3 separate regions of the Homo sapiens genome follow, and all the other regions are linked to region 1. Evidence: fine-mapped expression QTL. A gene starts in region 1. Each other region holds a variant in brackets. All regions are shown on one strand. Distances are between the middles of the regions.

Region 1 (5,637 bases):
TGTCACTACGCTTCTACTTTACTAGAACTCACTGTACTCCCACAACTGGGCCAGCTTTAAAGCCTAAATAAATTGCTTCACAAAAAATTTTCACTGCCGATTTACTGGGTAGTTTTCCTGTACTACACTATAATTACAGTGCAGCTATCTAATCAGTTTATTTTGTGGCCTTGTGGGTCTCCTGTCCACTGAAGCAAATGCTTCTATTAAATAAAGATAGATTAAATACTGACGCGCTTTTTCCTGAACTGGGGATAATTTTACACACCCATGACAGATATACGTGGTTATTTTGTGTGCCGAATTAACATTAACACAACACAGAAAAATAATTTGGTAGCACAGTCAATGTCTACAGAAAACAGTCATTCAGTTTGCCACAAGACTGTAACTGAAAAAGCAGTTACTCTCTCTTCCAATGTAACTCAACACGATACCAGAAAGCTGTTCAGAGCACCCCAAAAAGTATCCTTTGCATTTCAGTCACACTAACATCAGAATAAAACTAAGGATATCTTTTTAATATGCCAAATGGCAGAAAACATATCAAGTCAGCATTATGCACGTATTATACACTGAAGGAGGTGAAATTAACCCACTGCAGCAGAGGAAAGGCAATAGAAACACCATCCTCTGAGGGTCTGTGTCACATTCTCTGAAAGAATAAAAAATGCCAAGTTTTGGCAAAAGGAGTAAGATTTCATGAGGGGCTGTTTTTTCTTTCTTCTTTTTCTATCTTTCTCTTTTAAAAAAATACATTAATGTCTTCTAATTTAAAGACGCCAAACTAGTTAAGTTTTATATATATATATATATATATATATATATATATATATATATATATATATATATGAATGACAGGGTCTCACTCTGTCGCCCAGGGTGAAGTGCAGTTGCATGACCATGGCCCACTGCAGCCTCAAACGCCTGAGCTCAAGTGATCCTCTCACCTCAGCCTCCCAAGTACGTGGGACTACAAGCGTGCACCACCATGGCCCGGCTAATTTTTTGTATTTTTTTGTATAGACGGAGGTCTCCCTGTGTTGCCCAGGCTGATCTCGAACTCCTTGGCTTCAAGCAATTCCACGACCTTGACATCCCAAGCAGCTGGGATTACAGGTTTGAGTCACCACCCTAGCCACTGGATTTTTAAACCTTCATCTTGAAAACATGGCTTCCAAACCTAACAGTTGCGTTATTAGAGAAAAATGGCTGAGAAATGAAAATCCAACCCACAAAATAATTTAAACCAACCAGAACAAAGAAAGATTCCCGCAGTTCATCCCAACAGGTGGTTTCCAAGCAAACGAGGGTTTTTTAAGTTCTATCAAAACCCCCATCTAGTAGAACTGAGTATATTTTTGTATCTATGTAAACAGTCGTTCTTATACAGGAATGTTCAATTAAAAAGTTAAGAACTTTTAAACTGCTTATAGTGTTGAAGCAACTTCCTAACCCTTTATAATCCATGCTCTTCCAAACATGACATAAAATATTTTAAGCAAATTAAATACTGCTTTTCAAAGTAACAATTTCAAGACACTTGAGGGGACAGAATCAATCTGAAAGACCACAGAATCCACAGAAAAATCAGATTTAACAATAAAACTATTTCTTAAATTGGGAATACTTCTTTATATAAAGTCCCACTAGGAAACACAAAACTTTGTACCCTTTTCACCAGTAGTTTAAAACTCATTTATTATACGATGAAATTAAAATTTGTAAAAATGAGCCGGGTGCGGTGACTCAGGCCTATAATCCCAACACTTTGGGAGGCGAGGTGGGGAAGGGTAGGAGGGGGAGGATCGCTTGAGGCCAGAAGTTCGAGATTAGCCTGGGCAACATAGTGAGACTCTCTTTTTTTTTTAATGTTTAAATGGCATTATATTGTGACAAATATTAAATAACCAAATATTGCACAGGAAGCATTATCATGACAAACGCGGTAAAACTTTTCCGTGCAATCAAAGAGCAACAAACAGTACACATTTTAAGCAATGTTTAGGTCATTACAAGCTACAAATATTAAGGCGAACGCTTCCGTTGACAGCGTGCTGCCCCCGCCCCCAAATTCCCACGCGCTGCCGCACGCCTTCAGCTCAGAAGCCCCCTTTCCTGGGCAGGCGAACGGGCTGCACACCCCTCACTCCGCTGCGAAGTCAAAGGGCTGCAGACAAAGACAACAGAAGCACGTGACAAAAGTTTATCCCCGTTCCCTCCGGGGGCCCGGGCAGCTGGGCCTAGGCCACGCGGGGCGGCGGCCCAGAGCACAGGCAGGGGCAGCCCGGCGGGCGGAGGCGGAAGCGGCGCGGGGCTGCTAGTTACCTTTTCCTGCTCCTCGCGCAGCCGCGCCACATCCGGGGCGCGCAACGGAACCAGGGCAGGGGCCGGGGCCGAAGGGGGCGAGGGGTCGGGGGGCGTCTCCACGGTGGGCGCCTCCATGACGGGCCCGCGGGCCTCAGCGCGGCGTGTGAGTCCTGAACCAGCGCCTGCGCAGGCGGCGCGGCCGGCAGTTGCCCAGCGCCCGCGCGCCCGCCCTCAGGCACCGCGCGCCCCGCGCCCAGGAGGCCGCGCCCGCCGCCGCCGCTGCTGTTCGCGTCCGCGCCGCCCGCTGCCGCATCTCACACGTGCATGTCCCCGCCGCCGCCGCCCCGCAGCGGGCTCCGAGTAGCAGGCCGCCTGCCAGGTACCGAGACGCCTCTCCGGTGCGGGCCCAGCCAGGCGTCGCGTGGCGGCCGCGCCTCCCCACACGCCCCGCCTCTCGCGGCACGCCGGAAGCAAGCGCGCAGGCCCCGCCCCCGACACGCCCAGCTCGCGCAGGCCCCGCCCCCAGGGGAGTGCGCTTGATGCGAACCGCGTGGCTGGGGCTGGCGGTGTCCGCGCTGGGCTGCGTTTGTATCCCTCTGGAAGCTTACATTTTATGCCGATATTTCTTTCTTTTTTTTTTTTTGAGATTACGTATATGAAAGCACTAAATATAGGCTTTGGAACCTTAAAAAAAAAAAGCTTACATTCTATAGAAGCTCCACGCCCAGGAAACGCTCGGCAACAAGAGCCGCGTGTCGCCTTGAGTGCCCCATCTCCCTCCCCGTCGTTTGGCGCTGCATCTGTATCTAGGAGCTTAATTCATGTACTAGAGCTGTTTCATAAGCACATTTAATTTTAGCAAATTCAACTCTTTCTGTGCCTTTTTAGTGAGTTGAAATATACAATTATATTTTGCATGTTCATTAATTACTGTACACATTGTATTTTCTCTTATATAAATTAAGCTACTGTACTAATTTTAATATGCTGCTATGAATGGACTAAGAAATTTTCCAAGGATAACTTTGCCCCCACTTTTCTTTTTTTTTTTTTTTTTTTTAAGAGACTGAGTCTTGGTCTGTCGCCCGGGCTGGAGTGCAGTAGTGCCATCATTTCTCACTGCAGCCTCAAACTCCTAGACTCAAGCGATCTTCCCACCTCAGCCTCAGGAGTAGCTGGGACCACTGGCCCGCACCAACACATCCTGTTAATTTTTCTATTTTTTGTAGAGGCGGGGTCTCCCTATGTTGCCCAGGCTGGTCTTGACATTAAGCGAGCCTCCTGTCTTAGCTAACCTCCTGTCTTGGATTCCCTGAAGTGCTAGGATTACAGGTGTGAGCTACCACACCTGGCCGTTCCAATTATTTTAGAACTCCTGTGCCCACTTCCTCCTACAGCCCTTTGTACAGCCTCCTATTAACCTAACTGCGTGAAAGTGGCCTTGCCTTATCTGCTGCAGTCGCTAGCAGTAAAGATGGGTCGTGTTCGTTCCACATCATACAGACAAGTCTAGGCAGAGAGATGCCTGCAGAGTCACAGCCTGGTGTGCCTGCTTGCTCTGCTTCTCTTCCCTCACTCCTGCCCAGCTCCCAAGTCCAGATCCACCCTTTTTTTCCTTTTTATGGCTTCAAAGGAAGAAAGCAAGGACAACTTGGGAAAAGATAAATGTTCATTCCTGTCTTTTCCTCACTGCATATCCAACCATCATCACCTCTGGAACAGCCAGGACCTGACCATTGTTACCATCTCTTCTACCACCACCATCCTCTCTCCATCCCCAGCCACCTCAGCAACCATTGATCTGGCCTTGCTGCCCCTACTCTTGTCCCTTGTAATGGAGATCGGCTGCTGCCCACCCCACTTCCCCTCGTTTAGGGGCTTAACCCGCGACCACATAGTCCTGTGCCTGTAGGAAGCTGACCCACCCCCTAGCTCCAGGCAAAGGGGGTGATGCATCTCCCTTCTAAATAGTTGGTTCAAGAATGGGTGTGCGATGTCGTCCAAACAGAGACTTCCTGGAGGCTTCTGGGAAGGTTCTTTTTTTTTTCCTCTGTTGCCCAGGCTGGAGTGCAATGGTGCCATCTTGGCTCACTGCACCCTCTGCCTCTTGGGTTCAAGCGATTCTCCTGCCTCAGCCTCCTGAGTAGCTGGGACTACAGGCGCGTGCCACCACACCTGGCTAATTTTTGTATTTTTAGTAGAAACAGGGTTTCACCATGTTGGCCAGGCTGGTCTCAAACTCCTGGCCTCAAGTGATCCACCCGCCTTGGCCTCCTAAAGTGCTGGGATTACAGGCAAGAGCCACCACGCCTCTCCTGAGAAGGTTCTTCCTCATTCTTCAAAAGTGCTCCCATAAGGAATCAGTCTATCCCCTTGGCCAGGAAGTGCAAAGCAGGTAGCCCCATGTGTATCAGACAGCCCCCCAGACCACCTAGACACTCCAGTACTCAGAATGAAGTGCGATCTGTGGTCAGCAGAGCTGAGAACAGAACCCAATCCTTGACAGCATCACAGAACTTGATCCAGGGCTGAATCAACCAGCTCTGGAGTCTGCATCACTTCTGAACTTCCCGTTTAAAAGGCCAGTAAATTTTCTAAATGACCAGGACAATTTTCTATCATGAGCAGCCAAAGACATCCAATTCGCACACCTCTAAACTATTATCCACTCAGCAGTCTGGGTGAGCTTTTCAAAGGGGATCAGGTCATGTCAGTCTCCCTTCTAGGGCCCTCCATGGCTTCCCACAGCAACCAGAATCAAATCCAGACATCCTACTAGAATTCAGCATTGTCGGACCCACCTTCCCCACCTCCAACCAAGCCCCCTACCACTCAAGCCAACCACAACAATTTCTCTCTTCTTCAGATACTCCAGACTAGTTCCTGCCTCAGGGCCTTTGCACCTGCTGATCTCTCTGCCTGCAATATTTCTCCCATATCTTTCCATGGTTGCCTCCTTGCCATTACTCAGGCCTCAGTTCAAATAATAACAGGGCTTTCTTGATCTCCTGTCCACAAAAGCCCCTCCCCTCTCCTCTAGGCATCTGCCCTCACCTCACTTTTTAAATTTTCTTTGTAGCACTTATCACACTTTCAAATGATCAGCTTTGGCCGGGCGCAGTGGCTCATGCCTGTAATCCCAGCACTTTGGGAGGTGGAGGCAGGCGGATCATTTGAGGTCAGGAGTTTGAGACCAGCCTGGCCAACATGATGAAACCCCATCTCTACTAAAAATACAAAAATTAGCCGCCGTGGTGGCACACACCTGTAATCCCAGCTACTCGGGAGGCTGAGGTAGGAGAATCGCTTGAACCTGGGAGGCAGAGG
Region 2 (5,637 bases), 120 kb before region 1:
GATGAGATTGTCCGTTGTGCCCATGTCCTTCCAGGAGGACATCCCTGCTCCTGCTGCTCCCAGCAGCTTAAGGTCTGGTTGGAGGAGACAGACCTAGGACGAGTAAACCACCAAGCTGGACAGTGATAACTCCCAGAAAAAGCGGACCCGGCCTCATGGAGCATCGTGACAGGGCAGGCAAGTGGGTGACTTGCACAGGCACTGTGCAGGGATTCATGGCTGGCTGGCCAGCGACTCCACAGCCTGCTGAACTCCGGAGGGACCCCGGGTCTGTGGGGACACCACGCTCTACCCTGCCCTTGCTGGCCCCTCGCTTGGACCCCCAGGCCTGGGTCAGGGTCTGTTTTCCTCACTAAACTGGGGACATGAACCAGCAGCCCCCAGACATCATTAGTGTGGCAAGCCCAGTCCCTAAAAATGACAGAGAGGGAGGGAGGGAGGGAGGTGGATCTGATGGCCTTGGGCAGGTTGGGGACCACACCACTGGCGACAGGCCCCTTCTCCCTCCCTAGAGTCTTGGCTTTCCTGGCCCTGCCCTGAAGGCAGCACAATCCAGGAAGGCTGCCTGGAGGAGGGTGGTTCTGTTGGGCCTCCATAGAGGGTAGGATTTGGATGGGGGCTGTAAGCAAGAGGCAACCCCAGTGCAGGGATGGTGTGATGGGGGGACAGTCCCCTGTGCTTCCCGCCTGTGGGCAGGTGAGGCTGGGCAGGCTCCCCTGCGAGGCCCTGGGGGGAGAGTGGGGAGCAGACGTGTGCCCTGGAGGGTGTACAGGCCTGGTCTCCCACCTGGAGGGTGGCGGGGAGGGTAACCCAGGGCTGGGTCTGGGCAGGGATGGTCTGAAGGGATCCCGGAGAGGATAGGCCCATGGTGGCAGCAAGGGGGTGGCTAGGTGGGGATAGCAGAGGGATGGAGCCCTGTCACATTGGCTCCTGCTGCCCGGAAAAACTCAGGGCCCCAGCCCCTTTAGAAACCGTCCCAGCCTCACCCCCCACCCTCTTGACCACAATTGGCTCCCTGTTCCTCGCCTGCCCTGACCTGCTCCAGCCAGAGGCCCCCCTCGCAGCTCCCCGAAGGCACTGGGCTTGTTCCAGGTGCTGTGCCTGCCAGGAGCACTCCAGGCTCCTGTGAGCCTGGTACAGACACCACATCTAGGAGCCTTCCCACTCCCGACCAGGGCAGACCCCCCGCTTTCTACTAAGAGCACCCCGGGGCATCCCTTAGATACCTCACCACTCTGGGGAGCAACAGGCTTTTATGGGTGATTATGTTTTTAACGTCGCCTGCCCTCCATGCCCTGCTCTGACAGCAGGGACCGCAGTCACAGCCAGACCCCAGCCCAAGTCTGGTGTGCAGGAGGCACTCGGTCAATGGTGGCGGTGAGTGCCTGAGCACCCCCCTTCAGGAGGGGCCGCTGTCCGCAGGTCTGTGCCTCCTCCAGATGGGAGCACCCTGCAAGCTGGCCAGGGCTGATCCCCATTCCCCCAGGACACAGCACCCATCAGAAGGGGCCACTGTCAGCAGGTCTGTGCCTCCTCCAGATGGGAGCACCCTGTGAGCTGGCCAGGGCTGACCCCCATACCCCCTGGGACACGGTGCCCATCAGGAGGACCCATTGTCTGCAGGTCTGTGCCTCCTCCAGATGGGAGCACCCTGAGAGCTGGCGAGGGCTGATCCCCAGGCCCCCAGGACACAGCTCCTGATGCGCCAGGCAATGGACTGGTTGCTTTGGTTGATGAGGGAGGGAAGGAAAGGAGGAGGAAGGGAGAGGTGAGGAAAGAGGGAGGGAAGGAAGGAAGGAAGGGAGGGAAGGAAGGAAGATAGGTGAGCACACTCTCTCCCAGCTCCCTGTCTTCTTCCCTTTGCCCCGCAAGGCTGAGATTTCTCTGTGGCTGTGCCATCTTCAGGGAGGCAGTGCCCAGGGGAGTGTGGCAGGAAACGCCAGGCCCGGGGCTGCACCTCCTGAGCACTGTAGCTCCTAAACCCACCCGCTGAAGCTCCACAAATAACCCCAAAGAGGAACGGAGATCAATGCACTGCCCTATTGACAAAACCTCAGCCGTAATGCAGATAGCTCTCACGTTTTTATTGTGTTCATGTTGATTCATAGCGGTTTTGTCAATAAAAAAACACCGCACAAAGTCTCAACAGTAAAAACGTCACCAAAAATTATTTATTGCTATGATAACAGCAAATTATATATTGAAGGAGATTTGTGGCGTAGGGTGGGACAGAGGCTGGTGGCATCGTGGGTGGAGAGAGGGCCCCTCTAAACCTGCACTGTGGCCCCACCATCGCCTGAGTACACCCTGTGCCCAGCCCCGATGCAGGGCTGGCTTGGGCTCAGGGCACCGGCCCCCAGGTGACAGGGAAGTCATGGGTAGAGTCCACACCCACAGACACGAGGGAGAATGTGATCAGCAAAGTAACACAGGGACCTGCAGGCAGGACGGAACAGCTTTTCACCAGGGAAGCCAGGAAGAAGTCGTCACACAGTAATAACTGGGCCACCTTGGGAAGACCAGGTAGGTTTCAAATATTCACTTCCACGAGGAAGAAACGGCAGGAGCAAAAGCCGGAGGGTAAGGAAATGCTTAGCATGTTCGGAAGACACAGAAATAACATGCTTAGTGCCTGGGCGCGTGGTCCTGAGTGAGGGACGCTTGGGCAGCCCTGGATCAACCCGCACCTGCAAGAGCCTTCGCTTCCTTGCAGATGGCGACCGTCTCTGCAGATCTCTTCCATCAATAAAAGTGTTTTTATAAAATTTCTTCCTTGGAAAATTGACTCCCTGGTTTTGGTATTTCATGGGCAAAGTATAAATTGTGGAGGTGGCACCACCTATAAAAATGAGCTTTTCTTTCCAACTATAAATGCGCTTGGAGGTGGTGCGGAGTGCCCGGGTGGGTGGGGGGAGAACCTTAGCGGCTGGTGTCTGGTGTTACTGACA[G/A]TATCAGTGGGCGGGGGCTGGGCGTGGGCTGGAGCGGTGGGCGGGTCTGCTGAGGGTGTAGACACCAGGGCCAGGGCCAACCCGGGGTGGAGAAACTGGGGTGGGGGACGTGATGGGGAGGGTACTTGTTTAGAGCTGTGCATGCTATTTTGGGCAATTGACAAGGGGGTGGGGATAATTTTTCTTTTCCTGGAATGTCTGCCTGGGGGTCAAAAATTTATACTTACACCAAGTGGTTGGGTAAATAGGAAAGAACGCTTTTTTTTTTTTTTTTTCAAAAAAAAAAATCAGTGGAAGATTTCTGCTTCATACTGGCAGCCCTTTTCCTGCACATCTTTCTCTTTATGCGGTTTTGTCTCAGTGATTTGAGCATGTTCTAATTTTGTCATTCAAGCCATCTGACTTTCACTGCTCTATACAAACAAAACCTAATTTAGTCTGAGATGTTTTAAGTCATAGCAATGACGGATGGCCAGGGTTCAGGTGTGGTGGAATATTTAAATACCTAGTCTATATTTTTCTGATATAAAGACAGGCAGCTTTTTGTACTCTGATTAATTATGATTTTGCATTTCAGAAAAAAAATAGCTTTTTCTATTCTACATTATTAATTGGTTATTTAATTAGGAATTCTCCAAGCTTCAGATGTTGGGAAGCTAAATCTGTGAGTGGGTTTAAAAAAAAGCCAAGCTCTATCCTGTTGCCTTTTTGTATCTTATGAAGGTCACAATAAGACGTGATTGTTTGGCATAGCGGCAGTGAATTATGCCACCAGACAAGCTTTTAACCTATGCGCCTTAACTCTGAGTGAGACGCACGGGGCCTGTGCTCTCTTTAAACCGTTCTCTATTGAAGAGGATTCAATCACCATAATGAATCTGAGGCCAGGCAGCAATCTTCCGCACTGAAAGAATTTCTAAAAGATTGTAGAATTTGTAAAACGAACAGCTCGCAGACTAAATGGCTGTGTGGGTGAATCAATTATTGCAAGGCCCCGAGTAGTCATAATATTTAGTACATATCATAGAGTGTTTCAGGTACAATAAGATATGCTCGTTTTTCTCCGTTCCTGCTGGAAGTGGTACCGAAAGCCTCCACGCAACCCCGGCTCATCTGCCGCATCCCGGGAGAGCTGGGTCAGGTCGAGCGCACCCACCGCGCATCCACGCGTGGACGTGGGCACGTGCACAGGCAAGGAGGGGCTGCCTTCTGGAGAGGCGGGTGGTGGGGGAGCTAGAATACCTTCCCCCAACCTCCCCACTATTCCGTCAAGTCTGCCTCAGAAATCCATGGAGATGCTAAGTTGCCAGTTCTCTTTTTTTAGAGCCTGGTTTTGGACTGTTTCCTTATTAATACAATAATTATTTTTCTCTGACAGCACCATTTATAACCATCTACTCTGGGTCCAACTAGCCCTGTTTTCATTAATCAATGGTCATGGAGACGACTGTCATCACCTCTCTGGATGATGACTTATCGGCCTAATGCAGGCTCCTTTCTGGGGACCACAAATCAGGTGAGGATGGAGCCTTTTTGGCTGCTTGGTGTGAAAGCTTCTAACACAAAACTAGGTACCATCTAAAGACCTTTACCTCAGAGAAAGGCATCAGGGAGTTTCCGGGAGCTTGTGGAAGGTTGTTTTCACTGTGCTTTAAAGTTTGCAAGATGGGCAGCCCCTCTCAAGCAACATAGAGAAGCCTCGATGCAATCCAAGGGGAACTTAAAAAATATCCTGATGTCATCATGGCAAAGGCCCCAATTGGAGTATTGGAGGAAAGCTACCACGAGGCCAAGAAAGGGTTAGAGATGAATGTTACATAGATTGGGACTGAGGCAGGGTTCTACATTGGCTGTCCGCAGAATGAAGCTGGGAGATCCTTGAAGTCCCTTTAATGCAATTCCCAGTTGCCTCTATTCACATTGCAATGACGGCTCCTCTCCTTAGCATTCTGCCATAGAAGGGAACAAGTAGTACTCAGTTTCTCAAAGCCCCAGAAGCGGCACTGCTCAGTGTCCCCTTAGTTTATGCTCCCCGGATGAATCTTTCCATCTTGAGGCCTATGAAACTACAACTCTGTCTTCAGAGGGTGGGAACATCTGTTCTGTTTTGTGACGATTTTTAGCCTGGCTTTGCCTCTGTGGTTGTTCATTTGTCATGAGCATTCTGTCAATGTGAATGGCTCACCAATCTCAGCTGGTAAGGAAATAAAAAGAAAATCCCTCATATTGTTCTAAACTCTGTGCAGAAATCTCCTCCTGTGAACCTCACCTTTGAGCGCCTTTGCTAATAGAGGACAAAGAGGTTAAGTCTTTTTTTGAAGTCTTCAGCTGGTAGACTGCAGGGCCAGTACTCAAGCATGAATCTTGGGAGCCCCTACCTCCTCCCTACAAAGTGTCTCCTAGCTGGGTGTTTCTCCCTTCACCAGTTCCTCCCTGCTTCACCCAGGGCACCCACGACACTTCCCCAGAGAAAAGGAGAGGCTCTCCTCCCAAATGAGCCCAGAGCAGAGATCCTCACCAGCTTGCTCAGGCAACAGCAAATGGGCCAGACCATCCATTCCCAAAACATTCCTTCAGCCCAGCTCTCAACAGCCTCATTCCAATACTCTGCTAAGAGAAAAGGAGAATAAACAGAAGCAGCTAGAAGAGCTACCTGGCAATGAGATCCACATCAACAGATAATATCAAG
Region 3 (5,637 bases), 58 kb after region 1:
CGGGACAGCATGCGTGGTTTATGGTCCACAGCTCCGTACAGGAACTCTCGCATGTGTTCATGTTCATTGATATCCTCCAGTCTGCACCAAAGGATGTCTGAGAATTAACGATCAACTCCAGTTTCCTGGAAATGAATGTGGAGGGGCAGACTGAGGTTGCAGGGTGTTCCTGGAGGCCTACGGTGAGACCTGTGCTACTGTGGTCAGCTCTATTCACAATGCATGCTTGAAAATGAGGCATCAGGGTAAATAACAGTGCTCTCTGGGTTTTTTTTTTTTTCTTCCCCCGCTCTGCTCCCTTTTTTTTTTTTTTTTTTTTTTTGAGACAGACCCAGGCTGTTGTATAACTGGCATGATCTTGGCTCACTGCAGCCTCCACCTCCTGGGTTCAAGTGATTCTCCTGCCTTGGCTTCCTGAGTAGTTGGGATTACAGGTGCCCACCACCATGCCCAGCTAACTTTTATATTTTTAGTAGAGGCGGGGTTTCGCCACGTTGGCCAGGCTGGTCTCGAACTCCTGACCTCAAGTGATCCAATGGCCTCGGTCTCCCAAAGTACTGGGATTACAGGCATGAGCCACTGCACCTGGCCTTTCCCCTGTATTTTTATGCATAGGTTGGAAGTGCTCTCTGTCTGGGGGGCCACGTGGAAAGATGGGTCAAAGACGGAAGCAGTGATGCTCCCAATAGCATCCTGGCTGCAGATCAGCTGGGTCTGGAGCTAAATCTTGGTGAATTTGACACACAGCCTGATTATTGTCTGGAAAGTTCTGGAGAGGAACTCAGTCACCTGTCACCTGTCTTCCCAGGCAGGTATTTCCTTCGAGCTCTTTGAACCTCAGCACCCTGCTGGGGAGTGACCCCTGCCTGGGTTTAGGTTCTGCAGTTGGCATGCAGGTCAAAATGTATCGGAGGTGTGCCTGCAACACAGGCCAGGGCCTGACTGGTGCTGTGTGTGCCATTATCCTGGAATTGAAGGGAGGAGAAGGCACTAGAATTTTGAAGACGCTTCTCAGGCGAGGGCTGTGCATAGCCAGGGTTGACAGGCTCAGGAGCTGGGAGGGGGTCCTGGGAAGAGGGTGAGAATTGGACTCTGATCTCACCAGCCAGGTGCTTCAGGCTGGACCCCAGAAACACCTGTCAGGTAGGTCACAGAGATGAAGGACAACTCAGGTCCCAAGAAGTCGAGAAGAGAGCCAGCCAGTGAGCAGGTTTAAAAGTTAGAGCTGGGCCAGGTGCGGTGGCTCACGCCTGTAATCCCAACACTTTGGGAGGCCAAAGTGGGGGATCACTTGGGGCCAGGAGTTTGAGACCAGCCCAGCCAACCTGGCGAAACCCTGTCTCTACAAAAAATACAAAAATTAGCCAGGTGTAGTGGTACACACCTGTAGTCCCAGATATTCTGGAGGCTGAGGCATGAGAAGCGCTTGAACCCAGGAGGTGGAGGTTGCGTGAGCTGAGATCACACCACTGCACTCCAGCCTGGGTGACAGAGCGAGACTCTTTGTCTCAAAAAAATAAAAAGTAAATAAAAGCTGGAGCTGGCTGGACTGTGGGGCTCATGCCTGAAATCCCAGTGCTTTGGGAGGCCGAGGAAGGAGGATCGTGTGAGCCCAAGAATTCCAGATCTCCACACAAAAAATAAATACATAAAAATAAATTTTTTAAAAATCAAAATATTAGCAAGGCGTTGTGGCACATGCCTGTAGTCCCAGGTACTCAGGAGGCTGAGGTGGGAGGATCGCTTGAGCCCAGGAATTTGAGGCTGCAGTGAGCTGAGATGGGGCCACTGCACTCCAGCCTGGGCAACACAGCAAAATCCCATCTCTAAAGTAAACAAAACAAAATAAAATAGCTGGAGCTTCTTGTCACCATAGGAGCTGAGAAGGGACTAGATTTGTCGTAACAAAACTCCTGCACGGGGTCCGGAGACATCATCTCAGACCATCCCCCAATGGCTCCCCGCAACCCTGGGCTATCAGGGATGAGGGGCTGCTTTTCAAGGAGGCCAGTCCAGGACCTTGGCCTGGCCTGCCTGACACAGCTACTCCTGGCTGCCTCCCCGCCCCTCCCACACATCTGCATGGGATGGCTGCCCTCCTTGCTCACCGCGGCCACACAAGCCTGCCCGTCTTGGCTTCCAG[G/A]AGCCGCAGTGCGCAGGCCAGGAGCAGCAGCCATCCTCTGGCTCTTCTGCCTTGGCTGAAAGTCAAGGTTATTTCTGCCCCTCCTACCTTTTCCCAAAAGCCCTCAAGGGCAGGGCCGGTTATGGGCAGGGCAGTGCGAGGGGTTGGAGGGCCATTCTGCCCAGGCCACTCATTCCTGATGAGCCCCCAATGCAGCCTGTTGTCGCTGTGTTGGGGAGGGTTTCTAGGAAGTATCTATGTGTGTTGAAGTTAAAGCATTCACTTGCTAAATATAGATGTATTCGGTTCACCTTAATTTGTGTAACCCCTGCTTTAGGAAAGAAGAAAAGAAAGAAAGAGAGAGAAGGAAGGGAATGAGAATGGGAAGGGGAAGGGGAAGGAGAAGGAGAGGAAAGGAAAGGAAAGGAAGAAGGAAGAAGGAAGGAAAGGTGAGAGGGAGAGAAGGAGGAAGGGGAGGGAGGGAGAGAAGGAAAGAAAGAAAAGAAAGAAAAGAAGGGTGCAGTGGCTTACACCTGTAATCCCAGCACTTTGGGAGGCCAAGGCAGGTGGATCACTTGAGGTCAGGAGTTCGAGACCAACCTGGCCAACATGGTGAAAACCCATCTCTACTTTTAGTAGATATAAAAATTAGCTGGAGGCTGGGTGCGGTGGCTCACGCCTGTAATCCCAGCACTTTGGGAGGCCAAGGCGGGTGGATCACGAGGTCAGGAGATCGAGACCGTCGTGGCTAACACGGTGAAACCCTGCCTCTATTAAAGAAATACAAAAAATTAGCCGAGCACGGTGGCGGGCGCCCGTAGTCCCAGCTACTCAGGAGGCTGAGGCAGGAGAATGGCGTGAACCTGGGAGGCGGAGCTTGCAGTGAGCCAAGATCGTGCCACTGTACTCCAGCCTGGGTGACAGAGCAAGACTCTGTCTCAAAAAAAAAAAAAAAAAAAATTTGCTGGGCATGGTAGTGCACACCTGTAATTCCTGTTACTTGGGAGGTTCAGGCAGGAGAATCACTAGAAGCCAGGAGACCGAGGTTGCAGTGAACGGAGATCATACCACTGCACTGCAGCCTGGGTGACAGAGAAAGACCCTATCTCAAAAAACAAAACCAAAAATAAAAAAAGAAAGAAACAGAGAAAGAAACAAAGAAACAAAGAAAAAGAAAAGCTCTCTAAAACTCATCAGGAACAAACTCCAAAGACAGCATCTCTCAGGTGAGCTCAGGAAGGGCTCTGAGTGTTTTGAAAATCAGGACTTGGTGAGGCCCAGTGGTGAGAGTGTCTGTGTAAAGTTGCATTATTCAGAACAAGTTTTCCTGTATAAAAATAATACCAAAAAACTAACCGCAAATGTCAGTAATCAGAGGTTTGGAATTTGGACTACTTCTGCTCCAGAAGGAACTATCTGGAAAGACGGCAGACGGGACCAGTTTCTTTCTGGGGAACGAGACTGGGCTGATGTCAGAATTCCCCAATTTAAAATCAGAACTTCCCCCTGTCCCCAGCTCCAGGCCCTCCTGGCTCCTGGGAGCCACAGAGAGATGGCTCCCGTGGGCAGCCGCTGTGGATGGATCCTTTATTGGGCATCTTGAATTCCAAGCACCAGCCCCACATTTGCAAGCAGAGCCTCCAGGTGACCAAAGTGGAGCTGCACCTGTGACGTGCTAACTCCCCATCTGCTGGGCGGCACAGCGGGGCAGAGGGAAGGTGGAGAACCGCTACCGTCTCCACCCCTCCAACCCCACCCCTCCCCCAGCCAGCTAAAGCGGCTTCAGGAAGGGCCACGTTCTGAAATGAGGGCTGGGGGCAGGCCACGAGGGTGCTATTAGTCCTGTGTTTGCGGCCTCCTTGCCTGCCTGGCTGGTCCATGAGACCAAGCAAGGCCCTTTCTCCCCACCAGCGGGGAACATGCTGCCACCGGAGGGATGGCAAAGGGTTTACGGGCAGTTGACAACTTGGTGTGCTATTTCCATAAGTGCTGATGAGTTTCTACCAGTTGTTCACACATCATTCAAGAGATACCTTTTGAACACCAAGAATACACAAAGCCCAGGCAGGGAGGGCAGAGAGCCTATGCCTGGCTAACACCGGCAGGAGGCAGCTGCTCCCTTCTTTGATGGAGGCAAGTACTCCAGAGGTGACAGAGGGGCCTTGCACCCAGGCTTCGGGGCAGCCACGCAGAGGCTCGGCAGAGGGTGCTTCATTATGGGCCAGGCATTGCCCCAACCCCCACCCTCGCCTGGGGCTACCCACTGCTCCCACTTCTCAGGGGCAGGAAGTAAGCCTGTGAGAGGTTAAGGAGCTTCCCCAGGCCTTTCACTACTCAGTGGTAGAGCTGGGACTTGAACCCATAGCACATGCCTCACACCTCTCCTCGAGCTAGAACCACTTACATGTTTGGGGGTCCGAAAGGCCAGCGTCCGTTGTAAATAATACAGGAACAGAGATGGGCTCTTGGAATGAACATGTCACTCCTGGCCGGGCCGGTGGCTCATGTCTGTAATCCCAGCATTTTGAGAGGCCCAGCTGGGGGGATCACTTGAGGTCAGAAGTTCGAGACCAGATATGGTGAAACCCTGTCTCTACTAAAAATACAAAAATTAGCCAGGCATGGTGGTGCATGCCTGTAATCCCAGCTACTCGGGAGGCTGAGGCAGGAGAATCGCTTGAACCCAAGAGGCGGAGGTTTCAGTGAGCCGAGATCGCGCCACTGCCCTCCAGCCTGGGCAACTGTGGAGACAGGGTCTCACTATGTTGCAGAGGCTGGTCTCGAACTCCTGGGCTCATCAAGGAATCCTCCTGCCTTGACTTCCCAAAGTGTTGAGATTACAGGCGTGATCTGTAATCAGATTTTTGAGACTCCATCTCAAAATAAACCAAGAGAAAATGTCAGCCCTTTGTTGGATGAAGCCATTCCAGGCTGGTGTCACATAATTCACTGTGCTTCCCTGCCCATCCCTCACCCACTGCAGACCTGAAATAGGGCATTGCAAGGGACACCACGACATTTGCAGATGCACACCATTTCTTATGGGTGAGCGCTGATTAGTCACAGGCCACGCAGCCCAGCCCTGTGCTGAATGATGTGGGGCAGATTAGAAACCACAGCCCATTTCTGCTCCTAAGGCTGAATTCCTCCATGGGAAGTCAGGATCAGAAAGCAAAGCAGGAGACGAATATGATCAAGCATTGGATGGCAGCCCCCATTCTCTTATTTCTGCATTTCTCTTAAAGTTCTGTGTTTCAGTCAAGAGTCCACCCAAGGCGGGGCAAGGTGGCTCATGCCTGTAATCTCAGCGTTATGGGCAGTCAAGGCAGGAGGATTCCTTGATGAGCCCAGGAGTTCAAGACGAGCCTGTGCAATATAGTGAGACCCTGTCTCTACAAAAAATAACAACAACAAAAAATTAGCCGAGTGTGGTGGCATGCACTTGTATTCCCAGGTACTTGGGAGGCTGAGATGGAAGGATCTCTTGAGTTCGGGAGGTCGAGGCTGCAGTGAGC

What was found. PIP is the estimated chance that this variant, and not a neighbour inherited with it, causes the effect.
Region 2: its variant is the best candidate, but not a certain one, in a credible set for the expression of URI1 in whole blood (TOPMed, PIP 0.67).
Region 3: its variant is the best candidate, but not a certain one, in a credible set for the expression of URI1 in thyroid (GTEx, PIP 0.73).

Annotation. Positions count from the first base shown.
Region 1 is chr19:29,939,356-29,944,992 of GRCh38, reverse strand. It overlaps URI1 (URI1 prefoldin like chaperone), which reads right to left and starts at 2,754. Exons shown (of 11, transcript NM_003796.3): 1 at 2,329-2,754. The coding sequence starts at 2,445. RefSeq lists a silencer at 2,229-2,898 and an enhancer at 2,919-3,008.
Region 2 is chr19:30,058,407-30,064,043 of GRCh38, reverse strand. No RefSeq gene overlaps it. Among named protein-coding and RNA genes, the nearest start is that of URI1, 120 kb to the right of the region's middle. The variant G/A (reference allele first, on the strand shown) is at 2,949.
Region 3 is chr19:29,881,159-29,886,795 of GRCh38, reverse strand. No RefSeq gene overlaps it. Among named protein-coding and RNA genes, the nearest start is that of URI1, 58 kb to the left of the region's middle. RefSeq lists an enhancer at 4,030-4,565. The variant G/A (reference allele first, on the strand shown) is at 2,144.